Regions from separate parts of the Homo sapiens genome. Here region 2 is linked to region 1. The links come from fine-mapping of genetic effects on gene expression. A gene starts in region 1. The other region holds a variant in brackets. All regions are shown on one strand. Distances are between the middles of the regions. Region 1 holds the start of CIRSR (corepressor of RBPJ and splicing regulator). Region 2 overlaps GPR155 (G protein-coupled receptor 155).

Region 1 (10,511 bases):
ATGGGAGGGACCCGGTGGGATGTAATTGAATCATGGGGGCGGTTACACTTCATGCTGTTCTCATGACAGTGGGTGAGTTCTCACAAGATCTGATGGTTTTATAAGGGGTTTTTCCTCTTTTGCTCAGCACTTCTCCTCACTGCTACCATGTGAGGAAGGACATGTTTGCTTCCCCTTCTGCCATGATTGTAAGTTTCCTGTCAATTAAACCTCTTGCCTTTATAAATTACTCAGTCTTGGTCATTTCTTCATAGCAGCGTGAGAATAGACTAATATAGTAAATTGGTATAGGTAGAATGGAGGGCTGCTAAAAGGATACCCGAAAATGTGGAAGTGACTTTAGAACTGGGTAACAGGTGGAGGTTGGAACAGGAAAATGTGGGAAACTCTGGAACTTCCTAGAGAATTGGAGTGCTCAGAAAACAGGAAGATGTGGGAAAGTATGGAACTTCCTAGAGACTTGTTGAATGGCTTTAACCAAAATGCTGATAGTAATATGGACAATGAAGTCCAGGATGAGGTGGTCTCAGATGGAGATGGGAAACCTTTTGGGAAGTGGAGTAAAAGTCTCTCTTGCTAGGCAAAGAAACTGGTGGCATTTTGCCTCTGCCCCAGAGATCTGTGGAACTTTGAACTTGAGAGAGATGACTTAAGGTATCCGGTAGAAGAAATTTCTAAGCAGTAAAGCATTCAAGAGGAAGCACAGCATAAAATTCTGGAAATTCTGCAGCCTGACAATGGAATAGAGAAGAAAACCCTATTTTCTGGGGAGAAATTCAAGCCGGCTGCAGAAATTTGCATAAATAATGAGAAGTCGAATGTTAATCACCAAGACAAGGGAAAATGTCTCCAGGGTATGTCAGAGACCTTCACAGCAGCCCCTCCCATCATAGGCCTGGAGGCCTAGGAGAAGGAAAAAAGTGGTTTCCTGGGCCGGGTCCAGCCTCTCAACTGCTGGGTACAACCTTTGGTCTTCGTGCCCTGCATTCCAGCCACTCCAGCTATGGCCACTGCTTCAGAGAATGCAAGCCCCAAACCTTGGCAGCTTCCATGTGATGTTGGGCCTACACGTGCGCAGAAGGCAAGAACTGAGGTTTGGGAACCTCTGCCTAGATTTCAGAAGATGTATGGAAACACCTGGATGTTCAGGCAGATGTTTGCTGCAGGGGTGGAACCCTCTTGGAGAACCTCTACTAGGGCAGTGCGGAAGGGAAATGTGGGGTCGGAGCCCCCACACAGAGTCCCTACTGGGGTACTGCCTAGTGGAGCTGCGAGAAGAGGGCCTCTGTCCTCCAGACCCCAGTATAGTAGATCCACCAACTTGTACCATGTGCCTGGAAAAGCCACAGACACTCAACACCAGCCCATGAAAGCATCCAGGAGAGGGGTTATACCCTGCAAAGCCACAGGGGCAGAGCTGCCCAAGGCTTTGGGAGCCTACCTCTTGCATCAGCACACCCTGGATATGAGACATGAAGTCAAAGGAGATCCTTTTGGCACTTTAAGGTTTAATGACTGCCCTATTGGATTTTGGACTTGCATGGGGCCTGTAGCCCCTTTGTTTTGTCCAAATTGTCCCATTGGGGATGGGTGTATTTACCCAATGCCTGTACTCCTGTTGTATCCAGGAAGTCATTAACTTGCTTTTGATTTTACAGGCTCATAGGTGGAAGGGACTTGCCTTGTCTTACATGAGACTTTGGACTTAGACATTTGAGTTAATGCTGGAATGAGTTAAGACTTTGGTTGTTAAGGGCAGGATTGTGTTTTGAAATGTGAGGACATGAGATCTGGAAGGGGCTGGGGTGGAATGGTATGGTTTGGCTGTGTCCCCACCCAATCTCATCTTGAATTGTAGTTCCCATAATCCCCGCGTATCGTGGGAGGAACCCGATGGGAGGTAACTGAATAAAAGGGGCTGTTACCTCCATGGTGTTTTCGTGATAGTGAGTGAGTTCTCAGGAAATTTGATGGATAAAACCATCAGAAAAGGAGCTTTTCCTCTTTTGCTCGGCATTTCTCCTTGCTGTCACCATGTGAAGAAAGACGTGTTTGCTTCCCCTTCTGCCATGATTTTAAGTTTCCTGAGGCCTCCCCAGCCCTGCAGAACTGCAAGTCAATTAAAATTCTTTCCTTATAAATTACCCAGTCTCAGGTATTTCTTCATAGCAGCATGAGAACAGACTAATACTAATACAAGACTAATATGGATCAGTAAACAAACACTTTCTTCTTTTGGGTGGTAAAGTTGCATATTGTGGGACTATACCATAATTTATAATTTATTTATCTCATACTGTATAAATGGGCACTTAAGAAATTTCCAGTATTTTGCTATTAAAAATTTTGCTGCAAGAACTCAATACACAGGTAATTTCACACACATTTGACAGGGTTTTGAAAAGGATCAAGGCATGGCCAAGGAAAAAAACAGGGCAAGATATAACTGGCAGAGAGAATGACTCAGGCAAAGGCCCAGAGATATAAAATAGAACGTAAGTAGTTCAATATTACTAACATATAAAATCTTAGGTTGGGCTGAGGTGGGCAGATCACCTTAAGTCAGGAGTCTGAGACCAGCCTGGCCAACATGGTGAAACTCCATCTCTACTAAAAATACAAAAATTAGCCAGGCGTGGTGGTGTGTATCTGTAATCCCAGCTACTCGGAAAGCTGAGGCAGGAGAATCACCTAAGCCTGGGAGGTAGAGGCTTCAGTGAGCTGAGACTGCATCACTGCACTCTAGCCTGGGCAACAGAGTGAGCCTCCATCTCAAAAAATAAATAAATAAATAAATCTGAGGTGGGAGAATAGTAGGAGGGGAGAAGGAGAAAAACGATGGAGTGAGATTACTTGGACTCAATCCTGTAATATTTTAATAACAGGCTGAAAGAGATCAGATTTGTGCTTAAAAAAAGACAATTCTATCGAAATAACTTACATTCATACAATGGAATATTATTTAGCAATAAAAAGGAAAAAGTACCAATACATGCCATACCATGGATAAACTTCAAAAACATTATGGTGAGAGTAGCCAGTCAAAAAAGACCACAGATTGCATGATTCCATTTAAATGAATTTCCAGAATAGGCAAATCCACTAACAGAAAGTAGATTAGTGCTTGCCTAGGGCTGGAGAGAGGGAGAAGAGTTAAGGAAAAATGGGAGTGACTAACAGGTATGCAGGTTTCTTTTTTTTTGAGTCAGTGTCTCACTGTCACCCAGGCTGGAGTGCAGTGGCGCAATCTTGGCTCACTGCAATCTCCGCCTCCCGGGTTCATGCGATTCTCCCACCTCAGCCTCCCAAGTAGCTGGGATTACAAGCGCCCGCCACCACACCCAGCTAATTTTTGTACTTTTAGTAGAGACAGGGTTTCACCATGTTGGCCAGGCTGTCTTGAATTCCTGACCTCGGGTGATCCACCCACCTCAGCCACCCAAAGTGCAGAGATTACAGGTGTGAGCCACCATGCCCAGCGGGGGTTTCTTTTTGGGGTGATGACAAAGTTCTAAAATTGTTTGTGGTAATGATTACTTAACTCCATGAATACATTTTAAAAACCACTAAATTGTACATTTTACATGGGTGTTTGTATGATATGTAAATTTATCTCAGCAGAGCTGTTAAAATGAAAAATGACTATTCTGATGGCTGTGTAGTGAATGGATTTGAGAGGACTCAAGATTGGAGGCAGTAGAACCACTTAGGAAATGCAACAATATAGGTGAAAGATGATGAGGGTCTGAATTAAGACACAAGCAGCAGTGACAGAAAGGAAAGATGGATTCAAGAGATATTTGGAAGGTAAGACCAATAGCATTCAGTGATTGACTAGATAAAGGAGTGATGGGAAAAGGGATGAATCCTGAGCTTCTGGTTTGGGCAACAGGATGAGGGACTGTTTTACTATCTATATTTCTACCCATATGAGATAGCAAGTATAAAAAGGGCTGATTTGGGGTAAAAAACTTTTATATCAGATATGTTGAGTTTGAGGTGCCTATAGGACATCAAGATGCAAATGTCTAGTAGATAGCTGTCTTGAGCCACATCAAAGTTAAGAAGAGAAAACTGGGACTGCAGATTTGAGTCATGAGTAAACAGGCTAGTTAAAACAGGCTAGTTGGATGTGATTGCTTGGGGCAAGCATACTAAGTAAGCAAGAAGTGGGCCAAGGATGAAACTCTGGGGAACACTTATATTTTAGGAGCAGGCTAAGAATAAAGATCCAGTGAAGTTGATGGGAAAAGAACAGTCTAATAAGAGAGCTGGAAAACTAGAAGAGAGTAGTTATTACAGCTAAGGGAACAGAGAGTTTCACAAAAAAGGGAGTTTACAGTGATGCAATTGTCAATAGCCAGTTTATGAACTGTTTGCCAGTCCACAAGAAGACTAAAGAGCTTGGACCACAATGTAAATTAACTGCTTCCTTCATTAACAAAATCAAGAAAAAAAAAGAACAGCTGAACAAAACAGTGTATCCTGTGACATAAATGATTGAGGCAGCGCATAACAATACACAACAGAGTGACCAGCAGATATACAGCATTCACTCTTATTTTTGGTGAACAAATGAGACCTTAAAACCTACTGGACTTTTTATAAGCTTGGGAAACTGAAAACAAACAAGGAAAAAAAGAACCTACTGGACTTTAATAAACCCAACATGCCTAATTTTACAATTAGAATTTTCTTTCTTTCTTTTTAAATATAGATGGGGTCTCACTTTGTTGCCTATGCTGGTCTTGAATTCCTGGCCTCTCAAAGTGCTGGAATTATAGGTATGAGCCACCATACCTGGCCCTTAAAATTTTCATGGTGGAACTCTTTTGCACTCTTTGATCAAACTCCTTTGTTTCTTCCACTTCTATTAAAAAAAAAAAAAAACTTTACTGGAGTATGACATATAAAAAGCTGTACATATTTAATGTATACAACCTGAGTTTGGTGACAAGTATATCCCTGTGAAACCATCATCACAATCTACACTATAAACATATCCATCACCTCCAAAAGTTTCCTCCTACCCTAATAAATTTTTCTATTTATCTTCATTTAATATAGTTCCTTTATCCTTAGTTAATAAAGAATGCTAGAGGTCACCCCCTCTCCCCATAAAGTGTTAACTATCTAGAAAGGTCTGCTAATCAAAAACATTTCATTCTTCTCCTCTATCCTGGGAAAAGTATAAAACAGATCAAAGAGGCCAACAATATTTGGTACATTTTACATAACACTTTACACAGATGAGAAGAATGTAGGTTCTAAGCCTATAACTGCTTTACTGAATTTCTCATAGCGGACTTGCAAAAGTTATTCTCTGTGGATTTCTTTTTTCTTGTAAGAAAGCTGATACATTGAAATTTATAAAGCGAAATGTCAAAAGTTCCAGTAAAAAATTATGATTTCTCAGGTATATTTGTCTCTAAATATAAACAGCAAATAAGCAAGCACCTGAATTCCATCTAATCTCTTCATTCTTGTAAAAATAGTAACAGCTGACCCCCTAAGTATGCAGAGAAAGGAAATGTCTGTGTTTGGTGTCAAAAGTTATTGAGCCAACCAAATACAAGAAACCTCTCCCTCCCACAGTTGCAACCACACAAACACAAACTGGTGCAGTGGAAAAAAAATCACTGGGTTAATCAGGTGTTCCAGATCCTAGTTCTGGTACAACATTTAACTAGCTGTGTAACTCTTGGCAAATTTGTTTCCTCATTTATAAAATGAGGAGATGGGGCTGGATGATTACCAAAGAGCTTTCAAGGTGTATCTGTGTTATTAAAATTTCATGGGGGAGTTATTAAGAAAAAATGTTTAATAAGACTCCTTAGGAAGGTAACAGTGAAAAAAAAGTTGAGAATCACTGGTCTAGAAGTGAGAGTATATAGCAGTATCTCATCACCTCAACTCGTTCTAAAAACAAATAAAAGCTTAGTTATTTTCACAAGTTTCTATGTAGGGGCAATCAACATTTTATTGAGCACCTCCTCTCTGTAGTGGACACAGTGATAGATGCCTACGTTGTTTCAAATCCTTTATCTTCACTATTTCACTTAATCCTCACAATTAAGTCAATCATCCTTAATTTACAGATTAGAAGACTGAGGGTCAGATATTACAAATATTTTGTGCAAGGTCTTAAGGCTAAAAGTGACTGCTCGAATAACTAGAATCCAGGTTTGACTCCAAAGCTGATTCTTTCTACTTCACTCTTTTGCTTTTCATTACTATGATATTCACCAAAGTATTACAACTGGTAGACCTGTAATTATGTAAAACACTAAACTTCAACGAGTTTAGTCATCAAAAAGACACTAGATTATTAGGTAATTTTTTTAAAGATCTATCTTAAGTAAACGGGGAGGCTTCTTTGTACAGAAAAGTAGAGTTCAGAAGCCGTGATCCCTGGGATCCGAAAAGACAAAAAACCAGAATCAGCTGAAGGAAGTACTGAGGAATTTTGACATTAGTCTTCGCATATTATGGATTTGCATTCTGGCCGACAAAGATTCTCTAGGCCACCGGTCTCCTCGCTGTTGCAGAATAAACGCTGAGGACCCGCTGCGTCAGCGAGCTGCTCAGCAGAGAAAGGCGAGACCACCAGGGCTTTAGGCCTAGAGAAGCGGAGGCTGTCCTAGGGATCTCAGAGACACCATCACTTTCACTTCCAGCAGCCTCTGGGAAGGCGGTCCCTGTGGGCCTAATCCCTCCCCGGGTCTGTTTACTCACTTTTTTGATATTGGATTTGGAGGCAGGATGAAAGTCTTTCTTGCACATGAAGTTGGCGAAGGATTTCCCCATCTTGGAACTGGAACTAGGGAAAGCAGGGGCTAGATCTGTTAGCAACGTAAACAAACTCAGCCGCCTAACCGGAACTGCGTTTCCAGCAGCAAGGGGGAACTTCCGAGATCAAAGGTGACAGCTTCCGGCAACTGATGCCTCCACTGGCCACTCCTCCCTCCGTCCACCTGTCACTTCGGGTAGCTGGGAGGCCAGGTGAGGGGCGCGCACGGGGGAGGGGCGTGCATAGTTGAGACAGAAACCCGGAAGACCCAACTGTGGCGCGGCACTGCTTGACCGAGGGGCTCCGGAGCCCAGCTGCACCGGCTGCGGTTTGAGCGCCCAGGGCCGGGGTGCGGGGTGGACCGCGGCGGCCCTTCGACCAAAGGTGCTTGAAGCTCGAGCCCATTACTTTCTGTGGACTCTGACTCGAGCTGCAAAAGCTTTTCTGCACTGTTTTTCTCATCTATGTTATGAAGATAATAATTCCGGCCCTAACCGTAGTATGCTTGCGAGAATCCAACAATATGATGTTTCTGAAAGCGCCGGCTGAACTAAGAGCGCGTGAAATAGAATGACAGACAGCTCTGCAAGAACGGAGGCCCTGTCTATTTTGTACCCAGCTGTACGGTACTGGCGCCGAAAGACGTTCAATAAATACTTATTGAATGACGAATACGCGTTAGGAGTTGGTAAAATCTCTCAAGGCTTCACCTCCTCAGTGGGCTAGGTGCAATTCTAACCAGGGGGCAAGTTTCCTTAGCTTTCCCTACGACCCCAGTTAGGCAGCTCAGGTTACTATTGCAGCTTGATGGCCCTTGGGACTCCAGGTTTTTGAGTGGACGTGGCTGCTACTGCAGCAGGTGATCCACCAACCAAGTTCTCTATCAGGGTAATGTTAAGAATAAACCTTGGCCGGGCGCGGTAGCTCACGCCTGTAATCCCAGCACTTTGGGAGGCCAAGGTGGGTGGATCACCTGAGGTCAGGAGTTCAAGACCAGCCTGGCCAACATGGTGAAACCCCGTCTCTACTAAAAACACGAAAAATTAGCCGGGTGTGGTGGCACGCGCCTGTAATCCCAGCTACTCGGGAGGTTGAGGCAGGAGAATCACTTGAACGCGGGAGGCGGAGGTTGCAGTGAGCCAAGACTGCTCCATTGCACTCCAGCCCGGGCAACAAGAGTTAAACTCCATCAAAAAAAAAAAACAAAAAACGAATAAGCCTTTATGAGAAATTTTCTCTCCTACCAAATAATAACAATAACAGCTTTCATGTGAGTATCTACTATGTTCTATGCACTGTGCAAAACACTTTACGTGTTGCCTTATTAAGTTCTCATAACAGCCCATCAAATAGTGTCTTATTTTTCTGATGAGGCAGAAGGCATAGGTAAGAGAGAGATTAAATAGTCTGCCAAAGTTATATAGTGATAGAACTAACTATAAAACACAAATAGAAGGAGATCCAGGACATAAGAGTTGAAATACAGAAAGAAAATAACAGAAGCCATCAAGACATCAGACTTCTCGTCACTGAGGAGAAGAGGAAAACCCTTAAGAGTTTCAGTCTGAAGTTTTTATTTAGTCATTTTCTTTTCTTTTTAAGGAAACATTTATTATATTTAAATTTTGTTTTTAAGTTGCTAGCATCTGCCTGTGTAAAGCCATTTTAAGGTTTTGCCATTATTAAAGGAAAGAAGGAAACTCTGTAAAACAATGTGTCTGTTCTGGCAGCAAAATAAGGACCTTTAGGTGTTCTATTATAAGTGAAGATCTAAGATTTTCCAAGTTACAACTGAAGAGGTAATCTAGATATTAAAGTATATAATTGCGATTTATAAATTAAATATGTGAACTTTCTCCTAGAAATATCAGCAATTTGGAATTATATTGACATATTTTTGTCTGAATCAATGAGTCTGTTTCAAAATTTCAGTCTCATCAGAATTATAATGTGTATTATTTCCCAGCTCAAATAAGACCCCTTCTTCCTTCCTTTGAGGAAGTACTGGGCACGTAAGATTTTTTTCCATAAGACAAGTTCCAGCAAAGAGAATATAAAGATTAGTAAGACATACTCCCAGCCCTCAAGGATCTCATTGTCCAGTAAAGGGATTTATATATACACGAATGTAATGGAATCTAGCCTTTACAACAATAGAGCTAGGTACACGGATTCCCAAATATGGAAATGGTGAAACGAAATTCAGGGAAGACTTTAGGAGAGAAAGGTCTTAGAGAATAAATGTGAACTATACAGTAGAAGAAGGTAGTTCTCATTGCCATTTTCTTACTGAGTTGTAGTACCAGATTGAGTCCCAAGTCATATTCTTACTGATTTTTAGGCTGTAGTATACAAAATTTAAAACTTTAATGAACAGCCAAGCACGGTCACTCATGCCTGTAATCCCAGGGCTTTGGGAGGCAGAAGGGGGAGGATCTCCTGAGCCCAGGAGTTCCAGGCTGCAGTAAGCCCTGATCATACAACTGCACTCCAGCCTGGGTGAAAGAGCTAGACCTTGTCTCCAAAAAATAAAAATAAAAAAATCAAAGCTTTAATGAACATCCTTAATTAGATATGGCAATAATATCCTTTGGTCATTGAGTAAAACTCTTTATTTTTATATACTTAAAAGTGTTCTTTTTATTTTAAAACATCTGTATAATTTTTAGTTAAAAAAAATGGAACCTTTTTCCTGTGACACTTTCGTGGCATTACCTCCAGCAACAGTCGATAACAGGATTATTTTTGGAAAAAATTCAGATAGACTCTATGATGAAGTACAAGAGGTGGTTTATTTTCCTGCTGTAGTTCATGATAACCTGGGAGAACGTCTTAAGGTAGGTGAAATAAATGTTTTGTTAGCAATATGCCTTTTAAAAATATCATAAAGTTATTTCTATACATAGCAATTTGGAAGAAACTGTAGAAGTTAAAATTGAGGAGTTTACATTTGAAAAATAAATGAGTCAGAAATAAACTGTGATCTTTTATTTCAGTGATTCGGAGGACGTTGAAATAACAATAATAAAATTATCCATTGTTTGAATAAATATTTGAATGCTTTCCATATGCAAGCATGTTAGATAGGGCAAGAGATTTAAAGTCAGCTGTCAAGACTCTGTTCCAGGAGCTTAGAGTCTAGTATAGCAATAAGATGTGTATGCATTATACCCCATTATAAAATAGGATGGTTTAAATGCTAAATTTAAGTAACAGTAGCATGCTGTGGCAGCGGAAGAGAATGAACATTTAATTCAGCTTGGAGTTAGCTGGAATTTGATGGACAAAAAGGATTCTGATTCTGAATTGGCTTAGGTTCTACTTGATGTAGAATAGGAAAGTCATCCCAGACTTTAGGAATGACAGTTTTATGACACATCAAAAAAGGTTTATTAGGCCCTATGTTAACACTATCAATATACATTTTATGCAGTCACTTGGTAGTATACACATTAATTAAAGGATCCTTTAAAAACTTATTTTAAAAACCCATTTAATGTGGAACTTAAAATGAGAGCTTCAAATTATGCTATTGTTGCTAATTCATACTTTTTAGATTTTATTTTATTGATATTCTAATATTAAAACATATTAAATATTAGACTTTTTTCTGTATCCTATGCCATATTTTTTTCTTTTGCTAAGACCACTTATTCATCTGTGATACCACTTCCACTTTATTTCTTCATATTTAAATATAGCCTGTCCTGTAAACCAGTGG
Region 2 (10,511 bases), 76 kb after region 1:
TGAATACAAAACAGCCAGACAGAATTTTTCACAAACATACCAGAATGCATGCATCCACATAAATATTATACTTCAAAATAGCAATGTGCTACAACATTTTGAATATCCTTTTTGGAGCCAGCTGAAATGAGAAACAGTCTTTCTCACTGGGTCCTTTTCTATTTCCATGCCTTTTTATTCCCCTAGTTTTCTTCTTCTCTTATTACCTCTAATTCTTCTATTTAATAACTAACATAGTTCTATTTATTTAGTGCCTACCATGTACCAGACATAAATACTCAACATTTCAGTTTGTCCTCAAAGTAACTCTGTAAGGTGCTGTAACCTAGTTTTACAAATGAGGAAACTGAGGCTTCAAAAGTTAAGTAATTTGCATGAGGCAGAGCCAGAATTTCCCTGTTCAGCAGGACTCGATAGTGAGCTCTGGAACACACCTCACGCATCTTTCCCATTCCCGCCTTTCTCCATCTGCCTTCAGTATCTTCCCTCTTGTCTCCAAAAGGGAGCAGCACTGACAGCAGCCTAGAGCCACAGGCCCTGGGGAAAAGGACCATGTGACTGGACAAGGCTCTAAGCCCAGGCAGGAATAGAGTACATTAGGAAACAGAACTCAGCTTTGCCGATGGCCTCTGTGGGTGGGCTGATCTGCCTCAGTGCATGCCTTGATCCTGTACTACCAGACTTCAAATAGATCACTAGAAGCTCAGGGCTATTAGGAATGGGGTGGGGTGGGGAACAGATCTCAATTTCCATTCATAATCCAACTCACCTGTCCACAGGTAGGTGCTATAGAGGGAGCTGTACAATAGAACAAACACCAAAATTTGTCCAACAAAATTTTTTTCTTTAACAAAATTCCATATCATCATTCCAGCACAGACAATAGACTAAGGAAAAAATTATTAAAAGACTTTGTAAATAGCTAAGAAAACCATATAATTCAATACTGCAACAGAAAATTCCAATTAAGCCAGCCATATTCATCTTTCATTCACAGCAAATATAATTATTTGTTTAAAATTTTTTGTGAATAATTATCAAGTATTACACACTACTTATACTAAAACTTCAAACTTTATGTTAAAAATCCATTTTATAACAGAGCCTTTGACAATATACATATCCAATTGAAACAGATGACTTCATTCTAAATATTAATTTTATACCTGTATTTAGTAATGGCTTACATTAAAATTGCTAAAGTTCTTTCCATTATAATTTGAGACATGCAAAGATTAATTAGAAAAATGATTGTGAAAGAGTTCAATTATTAATGATTAAATTGTTTCTATTAAAAAATGCAAAGTTATCATCAAATGCCATTATTAGCCTCAACTTTAGATAGTTTAAGACATTTTGCAATATTAAATATGTTAGGCGTATAGTAGTTGTAATCAAACTGTAATTGACTGCATTTGGTAATACTTCTGACTTCATAACTAGAAAAACCTAGCAAAGTTATTTTCTCCTCTACAGTAGAATAATCCATTAGAAAAACATAGTTCTAAATATCAGTAGTTTTACTAACCTGAGCAATGAGTAAATTAGTTGTAAGCATATGAGGAAGCTGTTTATATTTCTTACTCAAAAGAAGAATAGCCAGAGACCAGATCTTGAAGACAAAAGGTTCAAAAGTTATTCATGTTTCTTAATCTTTATAATTACTTATTAAATAACACAATGATTAGCCTCTTTAAATAACCCTCTTTGTCCTGGTTCGGAAAGAATTTCCAATATTTTATTTAATCTGTCTAGTTCCAAAAAGGTAAATTATTATAACCAATGTAAAATAACAAGCATGGAGAGATCCCATAATAAATTAACTCTCCAAAAATTACAGGGTCTTTAAGAACTTATGTGGCCAGGCATCGTGGCTCATTCCTATAATCTTAGCACTTTGGGAGGCCAAGGCAGGTGGATCACCTGAAGTCAGGAGTTCGAGACCAGCCTGGCCAACATGACGAAACCCTGTCTCTACTAAAAATACAAAAATTAGCTGGGCACAGTGGCGGGCGCCTGTAATCCCAGCTATTCAGAAGGCTAAGGCAGAAGAATTGCTTGAACCTGGGAGGTGGAGGTTGCAGTGAGCCAAGATTGCACCACTGCACTCTAGCCTGGGTGACAGAGCAAGACTCCATCTCAAAAAACAAAACAAAACAAAACAAAACAAAACAAAGCAAAACAAAAAAAAACTAATGCCTTGGCCAGGTGCAGTGGCTCACGCCTGTAATCCCAGCACTTTGGGAGGCCCAGACAGGCGGATCACTTGAGGTTAAGAGTTCGAGACTAGCCTGGCCAACATGGCGAAACCCCACCTCTACTGGGTGTGGTGGTGTATGCCTGTAATCCCAGCTACTTGGGAGGCTAAGGGAGGAGAACTGCTTGAACCCAGGAGGGAGAAGTTGCAGTGAGCCAAGCCAAGATCATACCACTGCACTCCAGCCTGGGCAACAGAGGGAGACTCTGTCTCAACAAAAAAGAACTAATCCCTTGACCAGGGCCATGTTCTAACTATGCCTACCTTCCGTGTCTGGGGTGGGACACAGGGTCACAGACAACTATTCAGGGAAGGAGCTTTAGTGGGAGATAGTTATAATAATGCACTATTCTAAGTTTTTTTCCTTTTCTATTTCCAACATATTGTCTCATGGGGTATCTAAATGCCAGGCTGTTTTACTTCAAACAACACATACCACACACCTTTAAGATTAATCATCTTACATTCTTCATTTTTTATTCTTTGTGTGTGTGTGAGACAGAGTCTCACTGAAGTGCAGTGGTGCGATCTCGGCTCACTGAAACCTCTGCCTCCCAGACTCAAGTGACTCTTGTGCCTCCAGCCACCCAGGTAGCTGGGATTACAGATGCATACCACCATGCCTGACTAATTTTATATTTTTAGTAGAGATGGGGATTCTCCATGTTGGCCAGGCTGGTCTCGAACTCCTGGCCTCAAGTGATCTGCCTGCCTCTGCCTCCCAAAGTGTTGGGATTACAGGCATGAGCCACGGTGCCAGATCACATTCCTCATATTTTAAAGGATTGGGTTTCCATTCTACCTACGTATTGGCCAGGTAAGTATCCTGGCGACTTCCTTCTTTCCTCATTGCCAACTGAAATGTATATGGTCTCTTTCCCCAAACTGCCCTGTTATGAATGGGTGTAGTAGATTTTAAGAACATGTGACAGAGGTGGAATTTCTTTAAAATTAATCACACATTTATCTGTTACCAATATACATATTCACCCCCACCTCCATTAACTGTACACATTGTCTTTTTTTTCAGCCAGAATATCTGTAGTTTTACTAACATGAATTCAATAGGCCATTTGATCTGTAAGATACTCTAGCTGTCATATACTTAATTATTTAATTTTAGTTAGATATATTCAGTTTGAGAAGTAACCAAAAGTTTCATTAACATTAAATAGGCGGTTGGACTTGAACTCAAAGATACCTTCTGACCCCATGATTCTAGAACAGCTAGGAATTCTATAGTGATTCATCATTTGCAGAATGCTTTTCACATATATTATTTCATGTAACCCCTTAAAAAACCCATGGAAATATGTGAAATTATTGTCATTATTTTATGCTGGAAAACAGAAATTTAGAGAGGTTAAGGTAACTCCACAGAGGCATACAGCTAGTTTGTGAGAGGGCCAGGAATAAAATCCAGGTGTGACTAAATCTCATGTCTTGTCTGCTATAGAACTCTAACTCCCAAATAGAAAAACAAAACTCAGTTAATCAGAAGGCTGACATTATATTTTATGGGCAGGCTTTAGCTTTCTTTATTTCATAAGAAACTAGATTTTTAAATCCCTTCTGTTAACAGTCTATTCTCAAAACTCATTCTGTGGTTTCCATTCATTTTGGGATGCAACGTACTTACCAAGGAGATCAGGCTGACAATACTTATATCAAAACTAACATTCTGGATGGCATATGCCAATGGCTTAGGGTCCATAGTGGGAAAGGTCAGTAACCAGGCAGAAACGTACATGATGGGAGCAGACACAAATGTGCTTATCACCATCCCTGAGGTTATCTGCAAAAATGAAATCAAACAGAGGAGTTACAATCTCAATTAAACAGTATTTTAAACTTTAAATAACCACGGCACACTAAAGCATTCTAAAATAAAAATGAGACACAGTAAAGACATTATAAAATCCAGCATGTTATCCAATACCATACTTCCCCTTTCTGAGAATCCTTAATACAAAATACAATTGAGTTACCTTGGTTCCTCTTCTAATCTATGCTTAATTTATATTTACGCATAATAAATACTAGAAATTTACTGTTGATGGTTAGTTATCCTCTAAGTTCTAGAAAATAAACTGTAGCAATGATATAAATAAACCTGTTTCACAAACTATGTGGCAAAAAAGAAAAGGAATTCAAAAAAAGAAAATTACCATGCAAATATTTATTTTACAGATTAAATAACAGAATTGACCTCCATTAAACAACTTAGTTCCTTTGTATTATATTTAAAAATCATTTACTCTGATGCTGTAGATACCATTTACAATACATTTAGACACTGTTAATAATTTGGTGTCAATTGATTTTAGCTATCTGCTGCAGTTATTATGCAGTATTTTGCATCTGGTGCTTGAAATTATCAATGATAAAATAGGCATTTTTTTCTTCAAAATTTCAAAGTTACCTTTCTGTAAATAATTTTTAGGTTTCTGTCTAAGTACAGAAATAAAATAGTTAAAACTAAAAAAACTGATTAAAAAAAGTCAGGGCTGACTAAAGACCCCAGATTAAATGACTGTTGTTACATTATGTTACATGATGCCTATTTCTTATAATGAGATAGCTTATAGGCATCAAATTCTCATAAAAAACAATGCTGCTTGCTCTGTCACCCAGGCTGGAGTACAGTGGTGCAATCTTAACTCACTGCAACCTCTGCCTCCTGGGTTCAAACAAATCTTGTGCCTCAGCCACCCAAGTAGCTGGGATTACAGGCAACTACCACCACACCCAGCTAATGTTTGTATTTTTAGTAGAGACAGGGTTTCGCCATGTTGGCCAGGCTGGTCTCAAACTCCTGGCCTCAAGTGGTCTGCCCACCTCAGCCTCCCAAAGTGCTGGACCTCATAAAAAACAACATTGCTTTCTATGTTTAGAAATTAAAATGGGCTGGGCACGGTGGCTCATGCCTGTAATCCCAGCACTTTGGGAGGCCAAGGCAGAAGGCAGGAGTTTGAAACCAGCCTGGGGCAACATAGTGAGACCCCCGTCGTCTCTATTTTTTCATTTTTAAAAAAGAATTTTAAAAAATTTGAAATGAATTTAAAAATTTTTTTCGACTAAACACACCATCAAACTTAGAAAGTACTATATACATACAATTTCTACTTCCATGTTGAATTGTGTTGCAAAGATAGCCACTCCTGGTGCTACAGGAAATACACCATACAGAAATGCATAATTTGATAAACTTGTATGGTTCACCACACTGTCGCCCTTGTCCAAGAGTTCCACCATTTCTCTGCACAGAAGTGGCAGCACCAGACTGAAGAAAAAAGAAAAACATCATTTACCTG[A/T]TATCAAAGCATGGTTGTCCCCAGTAGCAGGCTGCTCTGGTGAATTTGGCATCAGGTTCTCCTGCCCAGAAGGTATGTCTATTTGCATGCACATATTCTGTGCATGTCTACCTGGGCACATTTTGTTGAAAAAAATCAAGAATTCAACTTGGAGCCATTTAAAGTGTAACAATATTCTGGAAATACCTCACACATCAGGGATTAGGAGGGAAAAAAAGATGTTTTTGGTTCTACAAATAATTTTTGTTTTTTGCCAAAAGATGGTAAAAGTTGCAATTCTAGCTACTTTCTTGCTTCCTCTATCAGTTTACTGAAATGTTCAAAGAAAGAAAGAAGGTTGACAATCTGCATAAAAACTTCTTTCAAGAGAATCACTAAACTCTTTTTCTTTCTTTCAAAGTATTCTAGAGAGACAGAAACTCCTGTTTTGAAAAAAAAAAAAAAAAGCTGAACTTTATCATGATTAGGGGTTGAAATGGTTCAGTTAATAACAACATTGCTTAATAAGATTCTAAAATCCTGCCGGCATGGTGGCTCAAGCCTGTAATCCCAGCACTTTGGGAGGCTGAGGCAGGCGGATCACGAGTTCAGGTCAGGAGTTGAAGACCAGCCTGGCTAACATGGTGAAACCCCATCTCTACTAAAGATACAAAAAATTAGCCGGGCATGATGGCACATGCCTGTAATCCCAGCTACTCAGGAGGCTGAGGCTGGAGAACTGCTTGAACCCAGGAGGTGGAGGTGCAGTGAGCTGAGATCATGCCAGCCATTGTACTCCAGCCTGGGTGACACAGCAAGACTCTGTCTCAAAAAAAAAAAAAAAAAAAAGATTCCAAAATCCTGTAGAAAAATAGGTATCTTCAAGTAGCTCTTCATCTTTGTAAAAAAAAAAAAAAAAAAAATTAGCAAAGGAACTAAAACAACTGAGATGGAGCAGAAAACTAGTGAAATGCAGACCTGTTGAAGAGTCAATTATTAAACAAATTTTTCAGGATTTCATAGAATGAGCAAATCCACAGTAGTTGAGCAAATAGGGCTCTCCTTTAAAATCAGCAAGACCAAGATTGTTAACATTTTCACAGCAGCACCTAGCAAGGCCCTCTGGGATGGAGTAAAGAACTACTCTGATCTGTACTTTTTAAATTAAAAAACTTAAATATCTAATTAAGTATCAAAGACCCCCCATCTTTAAAATTAGAATATTTAAATTCTACTTATAAGCAAAAGTTGATAATACCATTATTGTTTAAACTATACTTATTACTTCCACAATACTAATACTTTGTTTCTGAAGAGCATAACATCGCCATAAATAATTTTCAGTACTTATATTCATTTTTATTATTATGAAAACAGTAGATTATGTTGTACTGGTCTCATGAATATAACTGTCTATACATGAGGGGAATTCCATAGTTAAGTATGCCTCAAGTACTTTGGGATAATCTTGCAGTAAAATTATGTCACCTGCACCATCATGTAGAACTCCATGGCTAATGGACCAAGTAAGCTGAAGAACTATTAACTAAGAAGTTGAGGCTGGGCACGGTGGCTCATGCCTGTAATCCCAGCACTTTGGGAGGCCGAGATGGATGGATCACCTGAGGTCAGGAGTTTGAGACCAGTCTGACCAACATGGTGAAATCCCGTCTCTACTAAAAATATAAAAATCAGCCAGGTGTGGTGGCAGGCACCTGTAATCCCAGCTACTTGGGAGGCTGAGGCAGGAGAATAGCTTGAACCTACGAGGTGGAGGTTGCAGTGAGCCAAGATCGCATGACTGCACTCCAGTCTAGTTGACAGAGCAAGACTCTGTTTCAAACAAAAACAAAAACAACAACAACAAAAAAGAAGTTGATGAGCACTTTTCATTTGGCAAGCCAGGATCATATGGCTGATAATAATCATTCATATTGACTTGGCTGTATTTAGAAAATTTGGCCAACCTCAGAACTACAAAATACTTTTCCCAAATTCATGAAAAAAAGTTTGCATTAGAAATTATTGTTCTGGTTATCACTAAGATGCTTTTGTCTTTAGGGTCTTTATGGATTTGGAAAAGTCAGAAATGCTGCAAAATTTATTTGAAAATACTGTCAAACTGGGACATGAGGAGATACTGAGTAAACTTTATGTAAAAGCTGAAGGGAAACCCATCATCTTTATCCTCTGACAGTAAGATGGAAAGAATAAGCTACTGGGAATAAGGAAATGACTTTCCACAATACACCATCACATTTTCCTTTATCTCACAACTATTCTACAAGGAGGGGTTATTAATATTCAAAGGGGAAAATGGTTGCAGACATACCCCTGATGAATTGGCTAAATACGGCTTTCAAAAAGTACAATTCTCAAGTTAAATAAGTGATGCTTACAGTTTAGCTGTGATGAGAAGAATTAGTACTACAAATGCCGACTTCTTCAGTCTCTTTATTTTTCCCACCATCGTGAGACCAAGATAAAATAGGGCTGATCCAGAAAAAGAATTTCCAAGTCCATCAAGAAAATTTTCGACATATACAGGTACCTTTCGATCAAGAATAAAATTGAAGGCGATGCCAATGAAGACCATAAATACTATTGGGTTCTGTAATACACGCAGGAGTCCGAGTCCCACAATTTTTATTTTATTTTGAGAAGCATTTTGAGTGTCTTTCCACTTTTGGATTTCACAGAAAATAAACCCTATAGGGTTTAACATCATAAGAGATATTGGTGCCACCAAATAAATGTACTGGAGATATTCTGGGTATGTAGTTTGATATAAAGCTTCAACTGCAAAACAAGAATATTGATTTTTAAATGATGACCACAGAAATACAGATATATGTTATGTATATAACATTTTCTGTACTTTATAGCAATGATAAATCTAAAATTTTCAAAATGACCCAAATAGCCTATTTTGGAAAAGTACATTTTAGTAATAAAGCTGAAAAAAGAAAAACATAATAAATATCATATAGCTTATAAAATGATAACCAAGTTTACACATTATTTTTAAACCTCACTAATTTTTACCATCTAAGGGTTAAAATTAGTCTCCAAAAATGAGCAGAATTGTAGAATTTTTAGAAGAAACAATTCAAAGTAAAAATCTAGGGACAAACTAAACATTTAAGTAGTAATAGCAAAAATGTGTTTATTGGTATCCATGGAAAGAACAGTTTTACTGGAGTGGTAAGAGACAGAAGTCAGATCACAGAGGGTTGAGGAGAGAGTAGGAGTTATTTCAGGAACTAAAAAGGAGCACGGATGTGGAATCCAAGCTGTGTAAGAAAAGAAATGAAGATGGGAGATGTTTGGAGGCCTCTAGGAATTAGGGACAGTTGGAAGTGCGGGAGTTCAGAGTAAAACAGCTAATGAGCTACTCAGTTAAATATTTTCCAGATGACAAGGTCCAGGATGTGGCTATGGGACTTAGTGGCTGAAATGGAGTAAAGGAAAACATCACTGGAGAAGAGGAGGTCAAGGAAATGACAGGGCAGAGAATTTCATGGTAGTTCACAAGACAATGACAAAACTTGGGATAAAGGTAAATGAGAGGGAATGCCTAGAATGAGGTCAGCAGGTAACAGCAGAGAGGATCAGTGGTCTAGCCGGAAAGTATGAACCTCAAAGCAGTTTTTAACAGCAGAGCAGAGGGATGGTCTAGCAATGGTCCACAGTAGCTGTGGGGATGCCAGTCCTACCTTCCACTGCTCATGTGGTGTGCTGGCAATGGGAAAATGAACAACCTCCATTTGAGAGGAATGAAAAGGAATGAATGCCTTCAAAGAAGACCAGTGGAGATACTTAAGGAGTAGAGATAGAAAGGTGGATCTTACAATGTTTGGGAGGGAAATACAGTAGAGTCACATCAATGCACATTTAGTTAACACAAATTCAACCATACCCTCTTGGGAAAACAAAAGCTTCATTTCCCCCCACCCCCCATAGCATGTTTCCAAGTGCAAACAAATTATTTCAACTGCTGTTCATTGAAGAACAATGCTAGCTAAAAAAATCTGGCTGTGTTAGACTTATGAAAAATGGTACAATATAGACAAAGTATGTGTGCTGTATTTGGTGGGCATTTTCAAGAGTTTGAATATACAAGATGACTTTAGGACTTAACCACTGCATAAGATGTGTTTTTTTAATCTCATGAGGGAGGTGAGTGAGTGGGATCAGACTTCTAGCAGTTTCCTGGTAGACGTGAGGGTTGGTGACCTAGTCTTTAGTTTATTAGAGCAACTTAGGGCCTTTCAGTAAACAACTGGTCTCTAGCACATTTTTGACAATGGGTCCCGAAATTATACAATCTAATGCAAATAAAGGCTGATTTATAATTGATTTGAAGTTGAGAAAGATAAAAAAGAACAGCCACAGTCGTTCACAAGGAGAGAGGCAAACGTGAAAACATGTAAAAGATTAGGTTTCTCGGCCGGGCGCGGTGGCTCACGCCTGTAATCCCAGCACTTTGGGAGGCCGAGGCGGGCGGATCACGAGGTCAGGAGATCGAGACCATCCCGGCTAAAATGGTGAAACCCCGTCTCTACTAAAAATACAAAAAATTAGCCGGGCGTAGTGGCGGGCGCCTGTAGTCCCAGCTACTTGGGAGGCTGAGGCGGGAGAATGGCGTGAACCCGGGAGGCGGAGCTTGCAGTGAGCCGAGATCCCGCCACTGCACTCCAGCCTGGGCGACAGAGCGAGACTCCGTCTCAAAAAAAAAAAAAAAAAAAAAAAAAAAAAAAATTAGGTTTCTCAATTTACACTAAGATAAAATGATATAGGTAGGAAAATACACTTGTTTACTTACTCAGGATATGTAAGTTCAGTTAATGTCATGCACATGTCCCATTAAAGTTATATAACTAGATTATGTAACCTTTAGAAGGTCACCTTTTTCATAAAAGCTAAAACCTATTTTTTTTTAACAGATTCAATCCCCATTT

Evidence for each region.
Region 2: its variant is fine-mapped to the expression of CIRSR in whole blood (TOPMed, PIP above 0.99).

Annotation. Positions count from the first base shown.
Region 1 is chr2:174,388,816-174,399,326 of GRCh38, forward strand. It overlaps CIRSR (corepressor of RBPJ and splicing regulator), which reads right to left and starts at 6,897. Exons shown (of 10, transcript NM_004882.4): 1 at 6,736-6,897. The coding sequence starts at 6,807. It overlaps SCRN3 (secernin 3), which reads left to right and starts at 6,915. Exons shown (of 8, transcript NM_024583.5): 1 at 6,915-7,002; 2 at 9,460-9,627. The coding sequence starts at 9,469. RefSeq lists a silencer at 3,245-3,409 and enhancers at 6,796-6,845, 7,343-7,843.
Region 2 is chr2:174,465,016-174,475,526 of GRCh38, forward strand. It overlaps GPR155 (G protein-coupled receptor 155), which reads right to left. Exons shown (of 16, transcript NM_152529.7): 3 at 7,950-8,349; 4 at 5,375-5,540; 5 at 3,897-4,052; 6 at 1,529-1,612; 7 at 770-887. Among named protein-coding and RNA genes, the nearest start is that of GPR155, 17 kb to the right of the region's middle. The variant A/T (reference allele first, on the strand shown) is at 5,572.